Linked DNA regions of Homo sapiens: regions 1 and 3 are each linked to region 2. The links come from fine-mapping of genetic effects on gene expression. A gene starts in region 2. Each other region holds a variant in brackets. All regions are shown on one strand. Distances are from middle to middle. Region 1 holds the start of PEX11G (peroxisomal biogenesis factor 11 gamma). Region 2 holds the start of MCOLN1 (mucolipin TRP cation channel 1). Region 3 overlaps ARHGEF18 (Rho/Rac guanine nucleotide exchange factor 18).

Region 1 (8,161 bases), 31 kb before region 2:
GCCTAGCCACCAGTACACCGCCTGGTACAACCTGAATGTCTACCTATAAGAGACTGGTGGGGACAAGCTAAGAGTCCAGACTCAGGGGCATGGATGGCATAACCTAAATGTTCAACCATATGGGACTTGATTGGAACTAAAAACTGTCCAGCCATAGGGAGAGTCTTGCAATATCCTAAATCCCCACATGAGATTGTTTGGGACAACCCAGGGACCAACTACAGTGGCCCGGTCAGATCCTAAATGTCCAAACATGGGAATCTGTTTGGTATGTAAACGTCCAGCCAGGCTGGGTTGGCAGAGACGATCTAAATGACCAACTGGGGTTTTGTTGGAACCCATCGCTGCTTAGGCATGGCAGGGCCCAGGCCATGGCGTGTTCTTTGGTCTAGGTTGGCTGAAACAACCTAAATGCCCAACTATAGGGAATCTGGTTGGAAGTGAATGTCCAGCCACAGGGGAGCCCTGCAACATCCCAAATCCCAACACGAGATTGTTCAGGACAACTTCAGTGGCCTGGTCGGATCCAAAACGTCCAAACACGGGAATCTGGCCAGTGTGTCAATGTCCAGACAGGTTGGGTTGGCAGAAACTATCTAAATGTCCAACGCTGGCCAGACGCGGTGGCTCACGCCTGTAATCCCAGCACTTTGGGAGGCCGAGGCAGGTGGATCGCTTGAGGCCAGGAGATCGAGACCATCCTGGCTAACACGATGAAACTCCGTCTCTACTAAAAATACAAAAAAATAGCAGGGAGTGGTGGCGGGCGCCTGTAGTCCCAGCTACTCGGGAGTGCTGAGGCAGGAGAATCGCTTGAACCCGGGAAGCGGAGGCTGCAGTGAGCAGAGATCGCACCACTGCACTCCAGCCAAAATAAATAAATACATAAATGTCCAATGCTAGGGCACCGCATTTGAGCCTAGCTCGGACGGGGCCTCTGCGACGGAGTATCCTGGGCGACCCCGTCCCCTCTCTGGCCCGTTTCCCAGTCTCTGAGCTTGGGCCAAACTCTAGGACCTCCGGCCCCGGTCCGCCCCTGCCTCACCAGGCGGTCCCGGCCCCTGTACGACTCCAGCGCCGACGCCAGGCCGCTCAGCGACGCCATGGCAACTCCGTGACGTCACCGCGACGTCGGCGCGCCGCGCCAGGGGGCGGGGCCAGGCCGGGGTACCGGGAGCGCCCCAAAGGCTTGCGCGCAGGCGCGGCCGCAGGCCTTTGTCCCCCTGACCGGCTTTTTGTCCGCTGTAGGGGAGGGACAGAGTTTGCAGAGGTGGGGCCGACACGTGTGTGCTCTCCAGGCCTGCAGACCCTGGATCATCCTCGGAGTTTGCTGCATTCTGCCCCACGGCGGTTTGGCCAACTACCCACGCACAAAAAAATATATTTCTAAGTTTAACCAACTACCCACACGCTCCAAAAATATTCCAAGCAAAACCACCAACCTGTTCGCAGTGGTTCAAGGAGAGATTTTCCTTTTTAGTTTTTGTGCTTCACCTTTTCTGCACTGTCTGCCTGCCCGTAGTGAGCAGGAATGACTGCTGTAATATCACAACAAGGCATCTTTCGACGTTAAGGAAAGACGTTATCTTTGGACGTTAAGAATTGTTCTAGAATACATAAATAAAAAATAAAAATGCACAATTCAGTGACATTAGTACATGCACATGTTGGACAACCATCACCCCTTGCTAGTTTCGGGGTATTTTTATCACCCCCAAGAGAGACCCCCGTAGGAGACCAGCATATGCCCCTCTGAAATATGCGACCTTGGTGTAGGATTATTTTGAGCTGAGATCAATGAAGCTGATACCGGAAAAGCTCTCTGTTCTTCCCTGATTTGCCTCAAAGCAGGACCTAAAGGTACAAAGGTGCCCTCCTCCCCTCTCTACCAGGAAGGACAAAGGTTGATCACCAGGGACACCTTTAGACTCTTGTCTGGAGACGTCTTTTTTTTTTTTTTCTTTTTTTTTGAGACGGAGTCTTGCTCTGTCCCCAAAGCTAGAGTGCAGTAGCGCCATCTCTGCTCACTGCGTCCTCCGCTTCCCTGGTTCAAGCGATTCTCGTGCCTCAGCTTCCCAAGTAGCTGGGATCACAGCTGTGCACCACTGTGCCCGGCTAATTTTTGTATTTTTGGTAGAGTCGGGGTTTCACCACGTTGGCCAGGCTGTTCTCAAATTCCTGGCCTCAAGTGATCCGCCCGCCTCGGCCTCCCAAAGTGCTGGGATTACAAGCGTGAGCCACCGCACCCGGCCTCAATGTCCTTTTCCTTCGTCTTGTCACTTCTCCAAAAATTTGCTGCTATATGTTGAAGGTGCTATATAAGCAGGAGTTATATAAGCTATATAAGCCACCTCATTTCTCTTGGCATCTCCCATGTACACATAAGGTACACATGTTAATAAATTTGTTTTTCCCTTGTTAATTTTTTTTTTTTAGACGGAGCCTCGCTCTGTCGCCCAGGCTGGAGTGCAGTGGCACGATCTCGGCTCACTGCAAGCTCCGCCTCGCGGGTTCACGCCATTCTTCTGCCTCAGCCTCCCGAGTAGCTGGCACTACTACAGGCGCCCGCCACCACGCCTGGGTAATTTTTTTTTTTTTTTTTTTTTTGTATTTTTAGTAGAGACGGGGTTTCACCGTGTTAGCCAGGATGGTCTTGATCTCCTGACCTCGTGATCCGCCCGTCTCTGCCTCCCAAAGTGCTAGGATTACAGGCGTGAGCCACCGCGCCTGGCCTCTATTTTTTTTTTTTTTTTTTTTTTTTTTTTTTGAGACAGGGCCTCGCTCTGGGAGGAACCAAATTTGTAGATGTGAAGCCGCCACTTGTGTGCTCTCTGGGCCTGAGGACCCAGGATGATGCCCAGAGCTTGCTACATTCTGCCCCATGGTAGCTTGACCAACTACCCACAAAAAAGGGGTAGAGTGCAGCGGCACGATCTTAACTCACTGCAGCCTTGAACTCCTGGGATCAAGCCATCCTGCCACCTCAGCATCCTGAGTAGGTGGGACCACAGGTGCCTGCCACCACAATTGGCTAATTTCTTTTTATTTTTTATTTTTTGTAGAAATGGAGTCTTACCATGTTACCCAGGCTGGCCTTGAGCCCTGGGCTTAAGCAATCTTCCCACGTCGACCTTCCAAAGTGCTGGAATTACAGGCGTGAACCACCGCACCCGCCCTTCTTAATTCTTTCATTGCAAGGATCCATCACAGCTAAGAACTAAGAATAAAGGAA[A/G]AAGTATGTTTCCTCCCCTACACCCTGTTCCCATAAAGCAATCACTCAATTCCTCCCTCCTCCCAGCCCCTGGCAACCACTAATCTGCATTCTCTGCTGTCTCTCTGTATTTTTACCACTTCTTGATTTTTTTTTTTTTTTTTTTTTTTTGAGACAGAGTCTCACTCTGTCACCCAGACTGGAGTGCAGTGGCATGATCTCAGCTCACGGCAGCCTCCGCCTCCCAAGTTCAAGCAATTCTCCTGCCTCGGCCTCCCAAGTGGCTGAGAGTACAGGTGCGCACCACCACACCCGGCTAATTTTTGTATTTGTAGTAGAGATGGATTTTACCATGTTGGCCAGGCTGGTCTTGAACTCTTGACCTCAAGGGATCTGCCTGCCTCGACCTCCCAAAGTGCTGGGATTACAGGCATGAGCCACCATGCCCGACCTCCTTGATATTTCATACAAATGGAATCATACAATATGTGACCATTTGTGTCGGCCTCTTCCACCAAGCATAATAGGTTGTTTTGGTTTTTGCTTTTTGTTTTTGAGACAGGGTCTTGCTGTGTCACCAGGCTGGAGTGCGGTGGTGTGATCATAGCTCACTGCAGCCTTGAACTCCTGGGCCTGAGAGATCCTCCTGCCTCAGCCTCCACATTGCCTGGGACTACAGGTGCACGCCACCACATCTGGCCAATTTTTAAAATTTTTCTTTTGTAGAGATGCGGTCTCGCTATGTTCACCAGGCTGGTTTCGACCTCCTGGACTCAAGGGATCCTCCTGCCTTGGCCTCCCAAAGTGCTGGGATTACAGGTGTGAGCCACTGCGTGCAGCTGAGCATAATGGTGTTGAGGTTTGTCTAAGTTGCAGCATGTATCAGAAATTCATTCCACTTGCAGCTATATAACATTGCGCCATATGGATGGACCACATTTTGTTTATCCACGTATCAGCTGATGGTCATTTGGGCTGTTTCTGCCTTTTAGCGATCGTGAATAAGTACAGCTATAAACATTTGTGAATATGTAGTTGGAGTCCCTGGATTCCATTCCTTTGGGTCTATACCTAGAAGTGGGGTTGCTGGGTCATTTTGTAACTCTATGTTGAACTTTTTGAGTAATTGCCCAACTGTTTCCCACAGTAGCAGTACCATTTTCCATCCCCACCAGCATTACACAAAGGTTCCAATTTCGCCACTTCCTTGCAACATCCTTTTTTGATTATGATAGCCATCGTAGTAGGTGTGACGTGCCACCCCATTGTGGTTTTGTTTTGCCTTTTCCTGATGACTAATGATGTCAACGAGTCTGTTTGTTGGTTTGTTTGAATTTTTTTTTTTGAGACAGAGTGTCACTCTATTGCCTAGGCTGGAGTGCAGTGCTGATCTCAGCTCACTGCAACCTCCACCTCCCAGGTTCAAGCGATTCTCATGCCTCAGCCTCCCAAATAGCTGGGATTACAGCACACCCGCCACTGTGCCCGGCTAATTTTAGACTTTTAGTAGAGACGGGGTTTCGCCATGTTGGCCAGGCTGGTCTCCAACTCCTGATCTCAAGAAATCTGCCCACCTCGGCCTCCCAAAGTGCTGGGATTATAGGCGTGAGTCACCGCGTCTGGCCTCGATGTTAACCAGTTTTCTTTCACAGAATATTTCCTCTTGATTTCAACTCTTGTTACTCTTCTCCTGCATTGCTTTCCTCCTGTTGTTTAAAGTTACAGCAGATTCCTGCCTCAGGAACTTTGCATGTTCTGTTTCCTCTGCAGAAATGTTCTTGAGCCAGATACCAACGTGGCTCCCTCCTTCCCTAACTTCCTTTACTCGAATGTCATCCTCTCACGGGACCCACCCGATCACACCCTCCTGGACACTTCCTACCCATGTTACCTGCTGGTGACCTGTCTTGTTCATGGCTATATCCGCACAGCCTGGCAGAAAACAGAGAATCTGTTTTGTAAGTTTCACTGCCCTGTCCAAAGATCTCTTCTTGTGCTCCAAGGGAGCATGGAACACAAGGGGGCACAAGAAAGGCCTTGTCCACTCCTGTGATTTTCTTCCTCTCTGTCTCTCTCTCTTTCTGTTTTTGTTTTTAAACAGAGTCTCACTCGGTTGCCCAGGCTGGAGTGCAGTGGCATGATTTCGGCTCACTGCCATCTCCACCTCCCGGGTTCAAGCAATTCTCCTGCCTCAGCCTCCCAACCAGCTGGGATTACAGGCACCTGCTACCACGCCCCCACTAATTTTTGGAGTTTTTAATAGAAATAGGGTCTCACCATGTTGGCCAGGCTGGTCTCAAACTCCTGGGCTCAAGTGATCCACCCACTTCGGCCTCCCAAACTGCTGGGATTACAGGCATGGGCCACCATGCCCAGCCTCTTTTTTTTTTCTTCTTGTTTGTTTTTGAGACAGGGTCTCGCTCTGTTGCCCAGGCTGGAGTGCAGTGGCATGATCATAGCACCACTGCTGCATTGAACTCCTGGGTTCAAGTGATCCTCCATCCTCAGCCTCCCATAGCACTGGGATTACAGGTGTGTGCCACCACACCTGGCCCCAAGAGACTCTTTAACTTCCACATCCAGCTCCTTTTAAGACTTGGGTCCACTGGCTGAGCTCAGTGACTCACACCTGTAATCCCAATACTTTGGGAGGCCAAGGCAGGTGGATCACTTGAGGTCAGGAGTTGGAGACCAGCCTGGCCAATATGGTGAAACCCCGTCTCAAAAAAAAAAAAAAGACTTGGGTCCACGGGTCTTTGTGCACTCCCCTCTCCCCCAGTGGGGGGGTCACTCTTTTTTTTTTTTTTTAGAGTCAGAGTCTCGCTCTGTCACCCAGGCTGGAATACAGTGGTATGATCTTAGCTCACTGCAACCTCTGCCTCTGGGTTCAAGTGATTCTCCTGCCTCAGCCTCCCAAGTAGCTAGGATTACAGGCACCCACCACCACGCCCAGCTAATTTTTGTATTTTTAGTAGAGATGGGGTTTTGCCCTGTTGGCCAGGCTGGTCTCGAACTCCTGACCTTGGGGAATCCTCCCATCTCAGCCTCCTAAAGTGCTGGGATTACAGGCATGAGCCACTGCGCCCAGCCACGGGGTCACTGTTTTCACAGCAGAAAAATTGAAGCCAAGCCAGCTGCAGTGGCCTGTGCCTGTGGTCCCAGCTACTCAGGAGTCTGAGGCACGAGAATCGATTGAATCCAGGAGGTGGAGGTTGCAGTGAACCGAGATCACGCCACTGCACTCCAGCCTGGGCGTCAGCAAGACCCATCTCTAAAAAAGTAAAACAAAAAAAAATCCAAAGCCAAGGTCCAGACATGCAGAGGAAAGAGGTCACTGGCCGCAAAGCCTGCTGCTGCATGAATAAGCAGATCCCTCCTCTCAGGCCCAAGAGCCTTGGAACAGCGCAATGCATTTGCCCGAATGCTTCCTGTGTGCCGGGTCCCGCTCTAGGCAACAGAGATACAGCAGTGAGCTTTGCAGACACAGCCCAGCCCTCCCAGCGTCCCCCATCTGGCTAGGTCTGAGCTCGACCTTTGAAAAAGACACAGGAGCTGGCCTGGTGTTCACAGCTGGCCTTGGTGTTGCTAGGAGCTGGCCTGGCAGTCAAAGCAGGGCCCTGGTGTCCTCCTGCTGGACATAAACAATCTCACATGACGCCGACATCAGACAAGGCCACTCTGTGACCGCGGCAGAGCAAGACAAAACAAGCCTGCTCCATAATCATGTCTGAACACAGGCAAAACACGAACACTGTCCACACTATCAGAGTAACTGGACCTCCTCTGCTACTAGCTAATACCAGCAACGGCTGTTCCTTACCAAGCACAGCTTTAGTCTTCTGACTTCTTTCTTTCTTTCTTTCCTTCCTTCCTTCCCTCCTTCCCCTCCCTCCCTCCTTCCTTCCTTCTTCCTTCCTTTCCCTCCCTCCCTGCTTCCTTCCCTCCTTCTCTCCCTCCCTCCTTCCCTCCTTCTTTCCTTCTTCCTTCCTTTCCCTCCCTTCCTCCCTCCTTCCTTCCCTTCGTCCTTCCTTCCTTCCTTCCAGCTCCCAGCTTCCCTGGAGCTCTAAGGAGGCAGGATTTGCACAAAAAACAAAACCGTGCCCCCAAAACACCTAACAGAACTGCAGATCCCAAATCCCTCCCTCCCTCCCTCCCTCGCTCCCTCCCTTCCTTCCTTCCCTCCCTCTCTCCTTCCTTCCTTCTGACTTCTTCATACAGATGATTAAGATGCTGAATAATAGTTACTTCTCTCCCTAGCTGCTCTTTTGTTTTGTGTTGTTTCTGAGACAGAGTCTCACTCTGTCACCCAGGCTGGAGTGCAGTGGCGGAATCATAGCTCACTGCACCCTCACTGCAACCTCAATGTCCTGGGTTCAAGAAATCTTCCCACCTTAGCCTCCCAAGTAGCTGGGACTATAGGCACGCGCCACCGCACCTGGCTTTTTAATTTTTTATAGAGATAGGGTCTCACTGTGTTGCCCAGGCTGGTCTCAAACACCTGGGCTCAAGCAGTCCTCCCGCTTCAGCCTCTCAAAGTGATGGGATTACAGGCCTGAGGCACTGCACTCAGCCGCCCTTGCTTCTTTTTTTTTTTTTGAGACAGAGTTTTGCTCTGTGGCCCAAGCTGGAGTGCAGTGGCACGATCTCAGTTCACTGCAACCTCCACCACCTGGGTTCAAGCGATTCTCCTGCCTCAGCCTCCTGAGTAGCTGGGATTACAGGTGCCCGCCACCATGCCCAGCTAGTTTTTTTTTTCTTTGAGACAGAGTTTTGCTCTTGTCTCCCAGGCTGGAGTGCAATGGCGTGATCTCAGCTCACTGCAACCTCCGCCTCCTGGGTTCACGCAATTCTCCTGCCTCAGGCTCCTGAGTAGCTGGGAATACAGGTGCCCGCCACCACACCCGGCTATTTTTTATATTTTTAGTAGAGACAGGGTTTCACCATGTTGGC
Region 2 (8,173 bases):
CTCAACACTGTCCCGGAAGACGTGGACCCCAGCTATGAAGATCTGGAGCCCGTCTCGGAGGATCTGGACCCCGACGCCGAAGCTCCGGGCTCGGAACCCCAAGATCCCGACCCCATGTCTTCGAGTTTCGACCTCGATCCAGATGTGATTGGCCCCGTACCCCTGATTCTCGATCCTAACAGCGACACCCTCAGCCCCGGCGATCCAAAAGTGGACCCCATCTCCTCTGGCCTCACTGCCACCCCCCAGGTCTTGGCCACCAGCCCCGCGGTGCTCCCCGCCCCCGCCAGCCCGCCCCGGCCCTTCTCCTGCCCGGATTGCGGGCGAGCCTTCCGCCGCAGCTCCGGGCTGAGCCAGCATCGCCGCACGCACAGCGGCGAGAAGCCGTACCGCTGCCCCGACTGCGGGAAGTCCTTCAGCCACGGTGCCACCCTGGCTCAGCACCGTGGCATCCACACTGGGGCGCGGCCGTACCAGTGCGCGGCCTGCGGCAAGGCCTTCGGCTGGCGCTCCACGCTGCTGAAACATCGCAGCAGCCACAGCGGGGAGAAGCCGCACCACTGCCCGGTGTGTGGCAAGGCCTTCGGGCACGGCTCGCTCCTGGCACAGCACCTGCGCACGCACGGCGGCCCGCGGCCCCACAAGTGCCCGGTGTGCGCCAAGGGCTTCGGCCAGGGCTCTGCGCTGCTCAAACACCTGCGCACGCACACGGGCGAGCGGCCCTACCCGTGTCCGCAGTGCGGCAAGGCCTTCGGGCAGAGCTCGGCGCTGCTGCAGCACCAGCGCACACACACGGCCGAGCGCCCCTACCGCTGCCCCCACTGCGGCAAAGCCTTCGGGCAGAGCTCCAACTTGCAACACCACCTGCGCATCCACACGGGCGAGCGGCCCTACGCCTGCCCGCACTGCTCCAAGGCCTTCGGCCAGAGCTCAGCGCTGCTCCAGCACCTGCACGTGCATTCGGGCGAGCGTCCCTATCGCTGTCAGCTCTGCGGGAAGGCCTTCGGCCAGGCCTCCAGCCTCACCAAGCACAAACGGGTGCATGAGGGTGCAGCCGCTGCTGCAGCTGCCGCGGCCGCTGCAGCTGCAGCAGCGGCCGCCGGCCTGGGCCTCGGGCCTGGCCTAAGCCCTGCATCCATGATGAGGCCGGGGCAGGTCTCCCTCCTGGGTCCTGATGCTGTTTCTGTGCTCGGCTCTGGCTTGGGCCTCAGCCCTGGCACCAGCTCTGGCCGCAACCCTGACCCTGGCTCTGGGCCGGGCACTCTGCCGGATCCCAGCTCCAAACCCCTCCCCGGCTCCAGATCCACCCCCAGCCCTACTCCTGTGGAATCTTCTGACCCAAAGGCTGGGCACGACGCTGGTCCCGACCTTGTGCCCAGCCCAGACCTTGATCCTGTGCCCAGCCCAGACCCTGATCCTGTGCCCAGCCCTGATCCCAACCCTGTGTCCTGCCCTGACCCCTGTTCTCCCACTCGTGGCACTGTCAGCCCAGCCCTCCCTACCGGCGAGAGTCCAGAGTGGGTACAGGAGCAAGGGGCACTGCTGGGGCCTGATGGCTGAAGGAGACGCCGGCATCCTCGGGGGCCTGGGGAAGTTGTGTGTTGTGCAGTCAGTAAAATCCTCCCACTGCCTCCGGGCTCTGTGTCGTGGCTTGCCTTTTGTGCTTTCTTTCTGAGCACAGCCCCTTGCTCCGGAGATGGGACATTGTGGCCAGGGCCAGCCACAATCTGGAGCTCCAGTGTCCTGGCTTCCTTCTTGGGCCCACCAGCTAGACTTTCCAGCTTAACCCACAGTGTCTCATCCTGGTCCATCCCACTAGTCACCACTCTCTGTTCCTCTCACTTACCCCTTGCTCTTCAAAGCCCATACAGTAGGTATACAAGTGGACAAAAAAAGTTGCTCATTTATGCAATCAACAAACATCTCTGGATTGCTGGGGTCTCAGCAGGGAACAAGATAAATATGGCCTCGACCTGCATGGAGCTCATAGATACTAAATTCAGAATACTTAAAAAATAATTACGGGGTATAGTACATTCTAGGAGAAGCATAACAAGACTTCTGATATAAATGGCAGGCAGCTTTCTCAATGAAGGATTTTGTAATCCCAATAATCACTAATTTAATAATCAGTACTGTTTGCCCAGCCTTATGCGATAGTTTTTGCATTCTCTCATTTAATCCTCTCAACAGCCCCAGTAGGTAGATGACTTTGAATATCCCCATTTTGCAAATGAGAAAATTGAGGCACATTTTTTTTTTTTTTTTTAGACAGTCTTGCTCTGTTGCCCAGGCTGGAGTGCAGTGGTGTGATCATAGCTCACTGCAGCCTCGACCTCCTGGGCTCAAGCGATCCTCCCACCTTAGCCTCCCGAGTAGCTGGGATTGCCGGTGCATGCCACCGCCCACTGCGCTCAGCTTGGAGTTGAAGGGACTCTGGAAGATGTAGAAGTGGCATTGTCAGTGCCTAGATTTAAATCCCAATTGCCCTCCAGGGTCCAAATTCTTAACCATTACGCTCCAGGGCAAAAGTATGCAAAGGCTCTGGGGCTATAGAAAGATGAGCTTTGGATGGAGGTAGGAGCCAGATCAGAGGGCCCTGATAGACGAGAGTGGGGACTCTGCCTGTCATTACAGAGCAATGGGAAGCCGAGGGCAGGTTCTCGCAGGAAGGATAGGAATTATTCTTTGAAGATGCTTGTGGCTGCTGGGTAGAGAGTGGAGTGGAGGGAGGCTGAGATCGGGGAGGAGGTTGCTGCAAAGATCCAGGCCAGGAATGTTGGAAGACTCTGGGCTGGGGGCCATGGGGTGGGGATAAGTGGTTCTATTTGATACATAATTAGGAAATCGTGTTTGCTGAAGATGCGCAGGAGAAGGGTAAAAGGAGTTTCTGGGAGAAAGAGGAAGACAGCGTTGAGATAGTAGGCAGGGTCATCACCAGGCACCAAGGAGGATAAGGGGTCAAGCTCTGGACATGGAAGTCACAAGCCTGGCACCGGATTCGGGGCATGGCCGGGAGCCAGGGCAGAGCTCGTCGTTGCCAAACTCAGAGTCAGCCCATCCCCCGCCACCCAGAGCGCGTCGGCGCTAGGACCTAGCGACTGCCTTCGACCCAGAGGGCGCCGGCAGAGGCACGCATGCGCGCTGTTCCGGCAGGGGTTGTCGTGGCGCAGGGGGCGGGACCAGAGGCGGTCACGTGAGGGGCTCTGGGCTACCGGGTCACGTGACCGAGGCACAGATCAGCTGATGCCGGAGGGTTTGAAGCCGCGCCGCGAGGGAGCGAGGTCGCAGTGACAGCGGCGGGCGATCGGACCCAGGCTGCCCCGCCGTACCCGCCTGCGTCCCGCGCTCCCGCCCCAGCATGACAGCCCCGGCGGGTCCGCGCGGCTCAGGTGAGGGCGCGGGCGGCACCGTGGGGCCCCGAACTCAGGCGGGCGGGCTGTGTCTCCCACCTGGGGCGGCGGAGCTCCTAGTCTCTTTTTTTCTAAGCTCCAGCGCTGACTTTTCACGGTGGAGAAAAGGGCAGACGGCTCCTAGAACTTGGGCGGCGGGTGGGCACCAGCCTCTCCAATTCTTCCTCCTGAACCCAGGCTCTGCTGGGTTCCCAAACTCAGGCAGGGATCGCGCCGGGCCGCCAGCTTCTCCCTCTGGGGCGGCGAGGTTCCTGGGATTCCCACTGGGAGCCTAGGTTCCGATTGCTCAACTTCGTCTGGAACTCAGACAGCGGGCACCAGCTTCTCCAACCCGCACGTGAGACTCCCAGGCTTCCCCTCCTGATTCCAGGGGACAAATGCTCAGCTTCCCTAAGCTCAAGCCTGGAGAGCTGGAGGGATTGCCCCCAGGCGATTAACTCAGTTTTAGCTTTCCAAACCGCTGGAAGCGCAGCCTTCTTAAATTCGGGCTTCTAGCCAATTCTGATGCCACCCCTCCTCGGGGAGGCTGGAGGAAGACCCCTTGTGTTAGCTTCCCCTTCTGGAGCTAGCTGGGGACCCCTACCTGATAGATGTCCCGGTGTCCCAGCTAGTAGGGTCTGGGGTGGGTTAGCTGTAATCTCAGCTCTGTAAGCGGGCCCTGCCCTCTGGCTTTGTCGTAAACAGCCACAGCAGCATCTCATTGCAAAGGGAGGGGCCGGGAACTTGTCCCTCTCTGCAAGGGAGGTTCTGACAGTGCACACATTTATCCTGACTGCTTTGCTAGGCAGGAGGCCAGGCCCTAGAAAGCAGCACGGGGCCAGGCCCTAGAAAGCACATCCCCATGGGGGTGTGACAGGGACAGTTTTGGGCTACTGTGACTGGTTTTGACTCCAGCAGTTGCTGAAAGCTTAGATCTAACCATTAGGCTGGAAAAAAATAAACAGTGATTAGAACAGCTTGTGTTTGCTGAAGAGGTCTTTATCTGCTGTGTCTCACTGAATTCTCAGAGCAGCTTCAGGATCTCAACCTCAAGGCTCAGGGAGAGGGTGGACTTTTTTTTTTTTTAATAAACTTTTTTTTGTTGCCCAGGCTGTAGTGCAGTGGCATAATCCTAGCTCATTGTAACATCGAACTCCTGGGCTCAAGTGATCCTCCCAACTCAGCCTCCCGGGTAGATGGGGTCCCAGCTACTAACTACGGGCATGAGCCGTCACACCTGACTATTTAAAAAAAATGTTTTTTTTTTGTAGACAGGGAGGTCTCGCTGTATTACCTAGGCTGGATCCTCCCACCTTGGCCTCCCAAAGCCGTTGGGATAACAGGCATGAGCCACTGAGCCCAGCCAAGGGGTCGCCTTTTTAAAATTTCCACTCTTCAGATGAGGAGATGGAGGCTCAGGGAGGTACCTGGAGTCAACCTACTGTAAAGTGGCAGGTCTGGGATTTGATGCTAGGGCTGCATGATTTCTAGGAGCTGGTGCTTTTCAGGGAGATAAAATGAGTCTTTAGCGAATGTGTTCCATTATTATTACTTATGTTGTCAATTACCTCTTCTCCAGGTCCTTGGCTTCTGAGAGTGTCAGCTGATGGGCCAGGTTATAATGAACCCAGAGGTCATCTTTTGGGTATTTGTCCAGACAAACCTAGAATACAGGCTGAGTTCTATGCTCATGTCTGGAAGCTGGAGTTGGGATAAGCCCAGCAGGCTTGAACGCCCAGTGAAAAGCCAGTGGGAGCAGTTCATTCTCTCCCCACTGATCAATAACGGGAACATTGATGAAATGTTCTGACATTCACCATGGACCAGCCCCTGTGATCAATGCTTCATAAGCATCCAGTCCTTAGCGTTCCCATGAGACATATTATTGCCCCATTTCGCAGATGAGGAAACTGAGGCTCAGAGAGCTGGTGAGCAGGAGGGGCAGGAATCAGCCCAGGCCCTGTACCTCCCAAACCCAAACTCATAACCTCTGAGCAGGACGGGTGCATAGATACCTACAATGTCACAGGTTTTCTGGTTTTCTTTAGACCTCTCAGAGCTCTTCCTTGGCAGGAGCATGGGGACATGAAGATAGGGCGTGTGCTGCCTTCCTGGTTGGAGAAAGGGGAAAAGGGGAGTTGCCCAGGCCTCACCCCAGTGCCCTCTCCTATTCCCACAGAGACCGAGCGGCTTCTGACCCCCAACCCCGGGTATGGGACCCAGGCGGGGCCTTCACCGGCCCCTCCGACACCCCCAGAAGAGGAAGACCTTCGCCGTCGTCTCAAATACTTTTTCATGAGTCCCTGCGACAAGTTTCGAGCCAAGGGCCGCAAGCCCTGCAAGCTGATGCTGCAAGTGGTCAAGATCCTGGTGGTCACGGTGCAGGTGAGGCCAGCCAAGCAGGGGCCCCAGCTGAAGGCCACCTGTGGCTGCTGTGCTCCTTGAAGAGAGTCTTAAAGCAGCACTTTGGAAGGCCGAGGCCGGTGGATCGCTTGAGGCTGGGAGTTCAAGACCAGTCTGGCCAGCATGGTGAAACCCCATCTCTACTAAAAATACAAAAAAATTAGCCGTGCGTGGTGGCGGGTGCCTGTAATCCCAGCTACTTGGCAGGCTGAGGCAGGAGAATCGCTTGAATTGGGAGGCGGAGGTTGCCGTGAGCTGAAATCATGCCACTGCACTCCAGCCTGGGCAACAGAGCAAGACTGTCTCAAAAAAAAAAAGAAGCCGACTCTGAGGCTCAGAGAGGTTAGGAGACTTGCCCAAAGTCACACAGCAATAGAACATTGGGAGCTGGGATTTGAACCCAGGCAGTCTGACACCATGTTGACCCAATGGCTGCACAGATAGTTCTCCCTCCCCCATGCCAGACCCTGTGCTGGGCTCTGGGAACCCCAAGATGAATCAGACCCAGCCACTGCCCTAAGTGCTTACTTCATGTTTTGGGCTGACTTTAGCATGTCACCATGCCTCTAATTTTCCCTCTGAAAAGGGACCCAATTGTCCAGGCATGGTGGCTCATGCCTGTAATGCCAGCACTTTGGGAGGCTGAGTTGGGTGGATCATTTGAGGCCAGGAGTTTGAGACCAGCCTGGCCAACATTGCAAAACCCCGTCTCTACTAAAAATACAAAAATTAGCTGGGTTTGGTGGCAGGTACCTGTAACTCAGCTACTCAGGAGGCTGAGACAGGAGAATTGCTTGAACCCAGGGGGTGGAGGTTGTAGTGAGCTGAGATCATACCATGGCACTCCAACTTGGGCAACAGAGTGAGACTCTGTCTCAAAAAAGAAAAGAAAAGGGACCCAGTCATGGTACTTACCCTGAAAGTTTGGGTTTAACACAGAATCGGACATCCAGTAAACATTTAATGAACGTTAGTCCCTGCAGTGAGATAGATGAGTCCCCACCCTGTGTTGTACGGGGGAGGACACAGTGGTGGGCGTGGCATGGAGCTTATGCCAGGAGGTGGGGTGAAATTAATCAAAGCAAAGAAATGCACAAGTGAAATCCGTGTTTGTGGCCCAAGTTAGCAGGGCCCTGCCCCACCCCAGTGGACATCTGCAGGGCCCTCCCTGTCCTCTTCCAGGGCCTGTGCCCTGAGGGAGATACACCCCAACCCCCATCCTAGCCATGCCAACCTCTACTACCCTCTCCCCAGCTCATCCTGTTTGGGCTCAGTAATCAGCTGGCTGTGACATTCCGGGAAGAGAACACCATCGCCTTCCGACACCTCTTCCTGCTGGGCTACTCGGACGGAGCGGATGACACCTTCGCAGCCTACACGCGGGAGCAGCTGTACCAGGCCATCTTCCATGCTGTGGACCAGGTGCTGGTGGGCGGGCAGGTGCTGGTGGGCAGGCAGGTGCAGGTGGGCGGGCAGGTGCAGTTGGGCGGGCAGGTGCTGGTGGGCGGGCAGGTGCAGGTGGGTGGGCTGCAGAGAGCGGGCCGGACTCACAGGCCCTCCCCTTCTCTGCCCACAGTACCTGGCGTTGCCTGACGTGTCACTGGGCCGGTATGCGTATGTCCGTGGTGGGGGTGACCCTTGGACCAATGGCTCAGGGCTTGCTCTCTGCCAGCGGTACTACCACCGAGGCCACGTGGACCCGGCCAACGACACATTTGACATTGATCCGATGGTGGTTACTGGTGAGTGGGCAGGACGAGGCTTCACTGTTGGGAGCCTGAGCTGCTGGGATTAAAATCAACAGCTGTGGCTGGGCACGGTGGCTCACGCCTATAATACCAGCACTTTGGGAGGCTGAGGAGGAAGGATTGCTTGAGGCCAGAAGTTTGAGACCAGCCTGGGCCACGTAGGAAGACCTTGTCTCTACGCACAAACAAATTAGCTGGGCGTGGTGGCGTGCCCCTGTGGTCCCAGCTACTCAGGAGGCTGAGGCAGGAGGATCGCTTGAGTCCGGGAGGTTGAGGCTGCAGTAAGCTATGACCACGCTGCTGCACTCCACCCTGGGTGACAGAGTGAGACCCTGTCTCAAAAAAAAAAAAAAAAAAAAAAAACAAGTATGCTTAGTGTGAGTGTGACTCTTGCCACGTAGAAAGCACCAGATGTTATATTTTAATATGGCTCATTCAGTAAAACATCCGCAGGCCCAGAGAGTGCCAGGCCTGTAGGAATGACCCAACCCTGGGGAAGCACAGGGAAGAAGGCCACTGGGGACTCTGGGGAGACCAGCCTGGCCTCCCCGGCCCCCTGAGGCCCTTCCCTGACTCCCTGTCCTTAGACTGCATCCAGGTGGATCCCCCCGAGCGGCCCCCTCCGCCCCC
Region 3 (8,173 bases), 51 kb before region 2:
CCCAAGAGGCTCAAGAGCTATGATTGTGCCACTGCATTCTAGCCTGGGTGACAGAGCAAGACCGTGTCTCTGAAAACAAATCTATAAACCATGGGTTCTGTGAACAGATGTGGACACGGATGTGTGAGATGTTTGTATATGAGTGTGTGACAGTATGGGTGCCACTGAGTGTCACCACAAGTCTGCACATTTAGCAGGGGTTGGGGACGGGCAATGACCAGCAGCTCCTTCAGGCTGCACCTGGCTCTGTCCAGAACAGGAGAGGTCGAGGGTCTCCTGTGCACGACCCTCGGGGGCTCTCCAGAGGCCGCACAGCAGGAACCTCACATTGGATGTATCTGCTGTTGTCCCCTCAGGCCCAGCCCCCAAGCCACCCTCCCAGCTTCAACGGGGAAGGGCTGGAGGGCCCTCGTGTGAGCATGCTGCCATCCGGCGTGGGGCCAGAGTACGCAGAGCGCCCCGAGGTGGCTCGCCGGGACAGCGCCCCCACCGAGAACCGGCTGGCCAAGAGCGATGTGCCCATCCAGCTGCTCAGCGCCACCAACCAGTTCCAGAGGCAGGCGGCCGTGCAGCAGCAGATCCCCACCAAGCTGGCGGCCTCCACCAAGGGTGGCAAGGACAAGGGCGGCAAGAGCAGGGGCTCTCAGCGCTGGGAGAGCTCAGGTGAGCCGGCCCCACCCCTTCGCCTGGGCCTGGAAGGTGCAACTGGTCAGGCTCTAGCGGCTCGCTGGGAGCCAGGAAATTCGGGACACCTGTGCCATCCTCTGGAGAGGAAAACCAGAAGGCACAGCTGGCATCGTGGCTGAGGCCACCCCACACAGGGCCGTGTTTGGTCTCCAGGCCCAAAACTGAGATGATCCACCCTGCATCTTCTCCACCTCAACCCTCAAAACAGTGGGATGGGGACCAGGAGCCTTAGAAAGGGACACGGGCAAGAAGGCAGAGATCCCTGGCCACGTGGGATCAGCACAGCCGGGACAGGGACAGGTGCAGGCGCCTCTGCTCATTGTCCCAGTTCCACAGAGCCGTTCCACAGAGTGGGACACGGAGCCCAGAGCAGCCCCAGTGTTTCCACGGAGGATGTCCAGGAGCTCCTCTGGGGGACACCTCCCTGGGGGACAACCAGGGATGTTCTGGGATGTTCTCTGAAGATTAAGGGTGTGTCCCGTGGTCACTAGGGCCTGTGCTATTTCCACAGGAGGCTCAGCCTCCTCTCCAGATGCCGGGTGACTCTGCAGGTCCTTCCGCAGGGAGGTTGGGGCCGTTCTCCCTGAATCTGGGGCTTAGCATCTGAGCAGCTCAGGTCACGGGATCCAGGCCGCCCGTGGGAAGTGTCAGGTGGGGGTGGCCAGGCCCCTCTGCTCTCGGAGGCTGCCCTGGCGGGTGGGGACAGCTGGCCAGCCTGGAGCTGGCCCAAATACCTTCTCTCTTCCAGCGTCCTTCGACCTGAAGCAGCAGCTGCTGCTCAACAAGCTCATGGGGAAAGATGAGAGCACCTCACGGAACCGCCGCTCGCTGAGCCCTATCCTGCCCGGCAGACACAGTCCTGCGCCCCCACCAGGTGAGCCCCCACCCCCTGACATGAGCCCAGTCCCAGGGCAGCGGGGCTGCGGCACCACCCGGCGACTGCTCAGTCTGAACCCTCTCTCTGTTCCAGACCCTGGCTTCCCCGCCCCGAGCCCACCGCCAGCTGACAGCCCCTCCGAGGGCTTCTCTCTCAAGGCCGGGGGCACAGCCCTCCTGCCCGGGCCCCCAGCTCCCTCGCCACTGCCGGCCACACCACTCAGCGCCAAGGAGGACGCCAGCAAAGAAGACGTCATCTTCTTCTAAAAGGGCCGTGACTCAAGGTGCAAGGCCCCTCCCTGCCCTGCCCACCCTTCCTGCTCTCTGGGGACCCCCATGGGGTCACCATGCCCACCCAGCTGTCCCCTCCTCTTCCCTAGCAAACCACTGATGACCGCCTGGCAGGGGCCAGCCTGTCGGTGCTCTGGGCCTTGCAGCTGTTTCTGTAGGGTTAGCGGTGGTGCCGGGGTCACTTTCTGAATCTCTTTTTTTTTTTTTCAAAAAGGAAAGTTTTTAATGGAAAGTTGAGCCAGAACTAAACCAGGGAGCTGTCTGAAATCATAGCACCCCATCCGGGTGGCGGGGAGATCAACTCCGAGCTGTTTTTCCGAGGCAGTGAGGAACGGTGCCGGCTCTGCACGGAGCTGAGGACAGGACAGACCTTGCTTTGAGAAGGAGCTGCCGGCCGGGGCCACGCTCCACAGCCGCCGCGCGACAGTGGAGCCAAGGGTTAGGGCACCAGGAGGGGCCAGGTGGCGTCGGCAGCATCTGTCCCCAGAATCAGGCAGAATCCACTTCCCAAACAGAGCCCCACGCAGGTTCACCATGAACCTCAGGGTCAGGGAATGAGCCAGGCACGGGGGCATGGGCAGAGAGGGCCACGGGGCAGGGCCCACTGAGGGAACATCAGTGGCCCTCCAGTCAGGTTCTGTGGGTTTGGAAGCCCATCGTGAAAGGGGCTGACCTTTGCCCCTTTTTACTTGGCATTGGTTTTGAAACCAGCTGTTTCCCAAACTCTGCTTCCCAAGGGCAACCGTTGCTGTTCACACGCTCAGCCTGTCTGGGGGAGCGGGCCTCTAGCTTCAGCCAGGGCGGGTACACACCCTGGGCACAGGGTCCTCAGCCCCCGGGAAATGAGCTCCCAGGGCTGGCGTCCCACCTTCCAGGTGGGGGCTGGCACATCACAGACTGTCGAGAGCGCCATGTCCCAGGGCATGCAGAGGATGCACCTAGAGACGTTGCAGCAAGTGGACAAGTGGCCGCTGTGCGGGCCCCTCGCTTGTAGTGAGCTGTTGCAGCTTACGGTCCGTTCCCTGGAGGGGTGGAGGAAGGAGGTGTTGGGCAGCATCAAAGGTGCTGGGACATCCCAGGGTGGTGAGATCCATCCACGATCCAGCTCCGGTGGAGAAAGGGCCCATGTCAAGCCTTGTTCTGCACCCCAAGCATTGGTGGTAGGACTGGGTCCTGGCTGATCGTCCTTGTTCCCAGTGGGGTACATGTGAGCCCCTGCCAGGGCCAAGTCCTTCTCCCGAACCCAGGGTCCTGGGAACTGCAGATCCCGGGGGGATTCAGCCCTTCTCCCACTGTGCTGGCAGAGGCACTCCTGTGACGCTGAATACAGTGAACAGGGACATTCCCGCCACTCGGGGACAGATGGGCACAAGGGAGGGGAAACTCCATCAGGAAGTGCTCCCCTGGGCAGAGGCGCCCACTGGGTGCTGTGGGCTCAGGAGGGGGCGGGGCAGGAGCTGGTGCCAACCGGGAACCAGAGCCCCACAGCCATACAGCCCATTGGTGACAAGGTCCTGAGAACACAGTGGCCAGGTGTCCCCAGGCTCCTGGCCCCTCCGACGACCTCAACTCTGCCCAGCCCGGTCCCTGGCCATCAGCGACGCTGTCCGCCCCCCGTCAGATCCCATGTGTGCCATGTTTATCATCAGTGTTTTGTATTTTTGTACTGAGTATCGGAGCACTTTACAGAAGCTGACTGTACATTCCTGTTCTGTTGTGAAGAGAACATTCCCAGACCCTGGCACCCTCCTGAGCCGGCGTGTGCCGGTCCAGCCCTCCGAGATGCCACAATTCCTTGGATGGGGGAGAAGTTCAAGGAATTTCTGCTCGGCCACGCGGTGGGAACCCCGCGTCCCCGCCATGTGGCAGAGGGGTCTCAGTCGTGCTAGGCATCGGGCGGCAGCGCCGACAGCCCTTCCCTCGCCAGTGCCCCTCGGCCACTCCTGGGTTGGAGCCCGATTTTATTTGTAAAGTTGACAGTCGAGCAAATGTTCCTATTTTCGTGGGATCTGCACACGTCTTTGTCAGTTGTGGTCATGATCTTAGTCACCTGCTAATTATTTTTACAATGATTACAACATTTCCTCACTGCGGGATATTTCTGACCCGCTTTAGAACTTAAGACCTGATTCTAGCAATAAACGTGTCCGAGATGAGCGGTGACTGGCGTGCACGTTCTTGGAGGTTTTATTTGAGGATTTTCTTCTGCCCAAACGTTGCTGCAGGAGTAGCAGGTTCTGTTGGGGGCTCCCCATGGCTCCTGCCCCTCAGCTCGCTCACCTGCCCTCCGTGTCCTGCTTAACGCTCTGAAGACCCCTTCAGGTCCAGTCCCCAGGAGTTGTTGGGGGTTTTGTTTTTGTTTTTGTTTCTGTTTTTTTGGTTTGTTTGTTTTTTTGAGACAGAGTCTTGCTCTGTCGCCCAGGCTGGAGACCAGTGGCAGGTTCTCAGCTCACTGCAACCTCTGCCTCCCGGGTTCAAGCACTTCTCCTGCCTCAGCCTCCTGAGTAGCTGGGATTACAGGTGTGCACCACCACGCCCAGCTAATTTTTGTATTTTTTTAGTAGACATGGGGTTTCGCCATGTTGGCGAGGCTGGTCTCGAACTCCTGACCTCAAGTGATCTGCCCGCCTCAGCCTCCCAAAGTGCTGGGATTACGGGCACAGGGCAGGAGTGGGGCGTGGAGGTGCCTGTGGAGGGTCCTGCCCACCGGGTACACTTCAGGCTTTGGTGGCGCCTCCACGAAAATCTTTTTGCTTTTAATCCACAATAACCGCAAAGGCTGGAACTTTCACTTCCTCCATCTGGGGTGAGAGGCAGCTTGGCCATGAGTATGAAATCATCATTTCCACCTGGTCTGAGTCCCGGTCCAGTGAGGCGAGGACCCTGCTGTTTCAACAGAGGGTTTCCC[A/G]TCACAAGGGGACTAGGTGTAAAGTCGATCACTAGCTCACTAGGAAGCGCAAAAAGGGAACTCTCAGGCAGCACTGTCCACCAGGAAGATGATGCAGGCCACGTGTGGAATTTTTCATTTTTAGTAGCCATATTAAAAAAGTAAAAGGAGGGCCGGGCACAGTGGCTCATCCCTGTAATCCCAGCATTTTGGGGAGGCGGGGGCTGAGGCAGGAGGATAGCTTGAGCCCAGGAGTTCAAGACCAGCCTGGGCAACATAGTGAAACCCCTTCACAGAAAAATTAAAAAATTAGCCAGGTTGGCCGGGCGCAGTGGCTCACGCGTGTAATCCCAGCACTTTGGGAAGCCAAGGTGGGCAGATTACGAGGTCAGGAGATCGAGACCATCCTGGCTAACAAGGTGAAACCCCGTCTCAACTAAAAATACAGAAATTAGCCGGGCGTGGTGGCGGGCGCCTGTAGTCCCAGCTACTCGGGAGGCTGAAGCAGGAGAATGGCGTGAACCCAGGAGGCGGAGCTTGCGGTGAGCCGAGATTGCGCCACTGCACTCAGCCTAGGCAATAGAGCGAGACTCCGTCTCAAAAAAAAAAAAAAAAAAAAAAAAATTAGCCAGGTATGGTGGCGTGCACCTGTAATCCCAGCTACACAGGAGGCCAAGGCAGGAGGATTGCTTGAGCCTAGGGGTTCAAAGTTGCAGTGAGCTATGATCGTGCCACTGCACTCCAGCCTAGGCAACATGGTGAGACCCTGTCTATAAGAGCTTAAAAAAAAAAAAGGAAATTTGGGGGATAGAAAAAAGAAATGAAATTTAAAAAAAAAAGAAAAAAGGGCTGGACGCAGTGGCTCACGCCTGTAATCCCAGCACTTTGGGAGGCCGAGGCAGGCAGATCACCTGAGGTCCGGAGTTTGAGACCAGCCTGGCCAACATGTTGAAACCCCATCTCTACTAAAAACACAAAAATCAGCCGGGCGTGGTGGCAAACACCTGTAATTCCAGCTACTCTGGGGGCTGAGGCAAGAGAAGCGGTTGAACCCGGAGGCGGAGGTTGCAGTGAGCCGAGACTGCACGATTGCACTCCAGCCTGGGGGACAACAGTGAGACTTCGTCTCAAAAAAAAAAGAAAAAAAGGATGTAATTAATTTATTACATTTTTATTTATTTTTTTGACATGGAGTCTTGCTCTGTCACCCAGGCTGGAGTGCAGTGGCACGCTATCTTGACTCACTGCAACCGCCGCCTCCCAGGTTCAAGTAATTATCCTGCCTCAGCCTCCCGAGTAGCTGGGATTACAGGCACCCACCATCATGCCCGGCTAATTTTTGCATTTTTGTAGAGATGGGGTTTCACCATGTTGACCAGGCTGGTCTTGAACTCCTAATCTCAGGTGATCTGCCTGTCTCGGCCTCCCAAAGTGCTGGGATTACAGGCGTGAGCCACCGCGCCTGGTCTATTTTTTCTTCATTGTGGTCAAATGCACACAACATAAAACTGGCCAGTTGCTATTCTCCTGATGGTGGGCATTGGAGTGTGTGTGTGTGTGTGTGTGTGTGTGTGTCTCCCCCCACCCTCTGATTTGCTCCACCCCAACCCCAGCCGTCCTCTGACCTCTGCCTAGCTGACCCCTCCACTGGGATGCCCCCAGCCTTCCTCAGCACTCCTTATGGGCCCTGGGGGGCTTGGAGGCACCCTAAAATGAGATGTTCTGCAAAGAGGGCCTGTAGTGGCTGGGCACGGTGGCCCACGCCTATAATCCCAGCACTTTGGGAGGCCGAAGTGGGTGAATCACTTGAGCACAGGAGTTCAAGACCAGCCTGGGCAACGTGGTGAAACCCCGTTTCTACTAAAAATACAAAATTAGCCAGGCATGCTTGGGCGTGCCTGTAGTCCCAGCTACTCGGGAGGCTGAGGCAGAGAATTGCTTGAACCCAGGAGGCGGAGGTTGCAGTGAGCCGAGATCGCGCCACCGCACTCCAGCCTAGGCGACAGAGTGACTCTGTCTCAAAAAAGAGGGCCCGTAGTCTTTAAGGTTCACAAAGGGGTCTGTTCCCAGCCCCTAAAAGGTTGAAAACCACTGGACCAGAATGGGCAACCCAGGGACAGAGTAGTGGTCACCAAGCCTGGGGGCTGCGGGTGGGTAACAGCTGAGGGGTGTGAGGTTTCTCTCTGGGGTGATGGAATGTTCTAAGGTTGACTGTGGCTCTGCTTGCACGACTGTGAATGTACTAAAAGCCACTGAACTGTCCCCCTTCTGTGGATAAATTTTATATGTGAATTATATTTCCATAAAACTGTTTAAACACACACACACACACACAACCACACACACACACAACCACTGGACCAGCTGAGAGAGTGGGAGAGCGGCCTCCCTTTCTGGAAGCATCCAACCTGTCTGCTCTGTGCCTGGGCTCCACATGGTCAGTGTCCAAGGCCTTCCCAGCCCAGGCTGTATCCCTGAAGGTGGCTTGCTTTTCCTCCTGGCACCTGTGACCAGGTGGTCATGTGGCTTCCCCACACAGAGGCGCTGCTCCAAGGGCCCCACTGGTATGAGCTAGTAAGTAGTTGGGTCTCCAGGTAGACAATGAGATGCCCTAATCATGCAGGTGCTGCTAGGGGCTGGGAAGGAGGCCTCTGCTGAGGGCCAGGACAGGCCTGCACCCCCGACAAGGGAAAGAAGGGGGAAACCCACCAAGCCTGGCCCACTCGTGAGTCCTGGGCAGAAGGAGCCCCCACAGATGGGGTCTCCCGCACCCGTGTGACCCTGAGCAGTCCCCGGCCTCCCAGCTGCTCAGAGCCACCTGGTATCTTCCTTGTAAAAAACAAACCACAAATGTACTCTGGGAGGCCGAGGCAGGCAGCTCACTTGAAGCCAGGAGTTCAAGACCAGCCTGGGCAATGTGGTGAGACCCTGTCTCTACAAAAAGTTTAAAAATTAGCTGGATTTGGTGATAAACACCTGTAGTTCCTGCTATTCAGGAGGCTGAGGTAGGAGGATCCCTTGAGCCCAGGAGTTTGAGGCTGCAGTGAGGCTATGATCGCACCACTGCACTCCAGCCTGGGTGACAGAGATCCTGGGTCAAAAAGATAAAAATCAAGGCAGTGCAATTGATATCACATGAGGCCCAAGGGCGCACACACACTGGCTGTTGTGTGTTCCTGGGCCAGGCTGTGCAACAATGTCTGCCAGAGGCCACATGTGCACAGACTCTGAAGGGTTGTTCTCAGCCAGCAGACTAAGCAGTGCCCTCATCCCATCCCACCACACATTGGCTGAGGTGGGAGCCCCAAGTATCTTCAGCGATGCCAGTGTGTGTTGCCCAGTCTCAGCCTGGAGCCCTTAAAATGCTCACAGTGGCCCTGCGTCGGCAGCACAGTGGCATGAGGCCACGCCCTCGGGTGGCCTGATGAGAGG

The links. PIP is the estimated chance that this variant, and not a neighbour inherited with it, causes the effect.
Region 1: its variant is fine-mapped to the expression of MCOLN1 in whole blood (INTERVAL, PIP 0.98).
Region 3: its variant is fine-mapped to the expression of MCOLN1 in lung (TOPMed, PIP above 0.99).

What each region holds. Positions count from the first base shown.
Region 1 is chr19:7,487,906-7,496,066 of GRCh38, forward strand. PEX11G (peroxisomal biogenesis factor 11 gamma) reads right to left here and starts at 1,130. Exons shown (of 5, transcript NM_080662.4): 1 at 1,046-1,130. The coding sequence starts at 1,105. RefSeq lists silencers at 877-936, 987-1,316, 4,838-5,132. The variant A/G (reference allele first, on the strand shown) is at 3,233.
Region 2 is chr19:7,519,390-7,527,562 of GRCh38, forward strand. It overlaps MCOLN1 (mucolipin TRP cation channel 1), which reads left to right and starts at 3,235. Exons shown (of 14, transcript NM_020533.3): 1 at 3,235-3,392; 2 at 5,572-5,777; 3 at 7,050-7,217; 4 at 7,372-7,537; 5 at 8,131-8,173. The coding sequence starts at 3,362. ZNF358 (zinc finger protein 358) reads left to right here. Exons shown (of 2, transcript NM_018083.5): 2 at 1-1,636. The coding sequence ends at 1,560. LOC105372261 (a long non-coding RNA gene) reads right to left here and starts at 5,575. Exons shown (of 3, transcript XR_936294.3): 1 at 4,961-5,575; 2 at 3,453-3,773. RefSeq lists a silencer at 3,269-3,398.
Region 3 is chr19:7,468,469-7,476,641 of GRCh38, forward strand. ARHGEF18 (Rho/Rac guanine nucleotide exchange factor 18) reads left to right here. Exons shown (of 29, transcript NM_001367823.1): 27 at 357-663; 28 at 1,436-1,561; 29 at 1,658-4,010. The coding sequence ends at 1,830. Among named protein-coding and RNA genes, the nearest start is that of PEX11G, 16 kb to the right of the region's middle. RefSeq lists a silencer at 4,687-4,736. The variant A/G (reference allele first, on the strand shown) is at 4,763.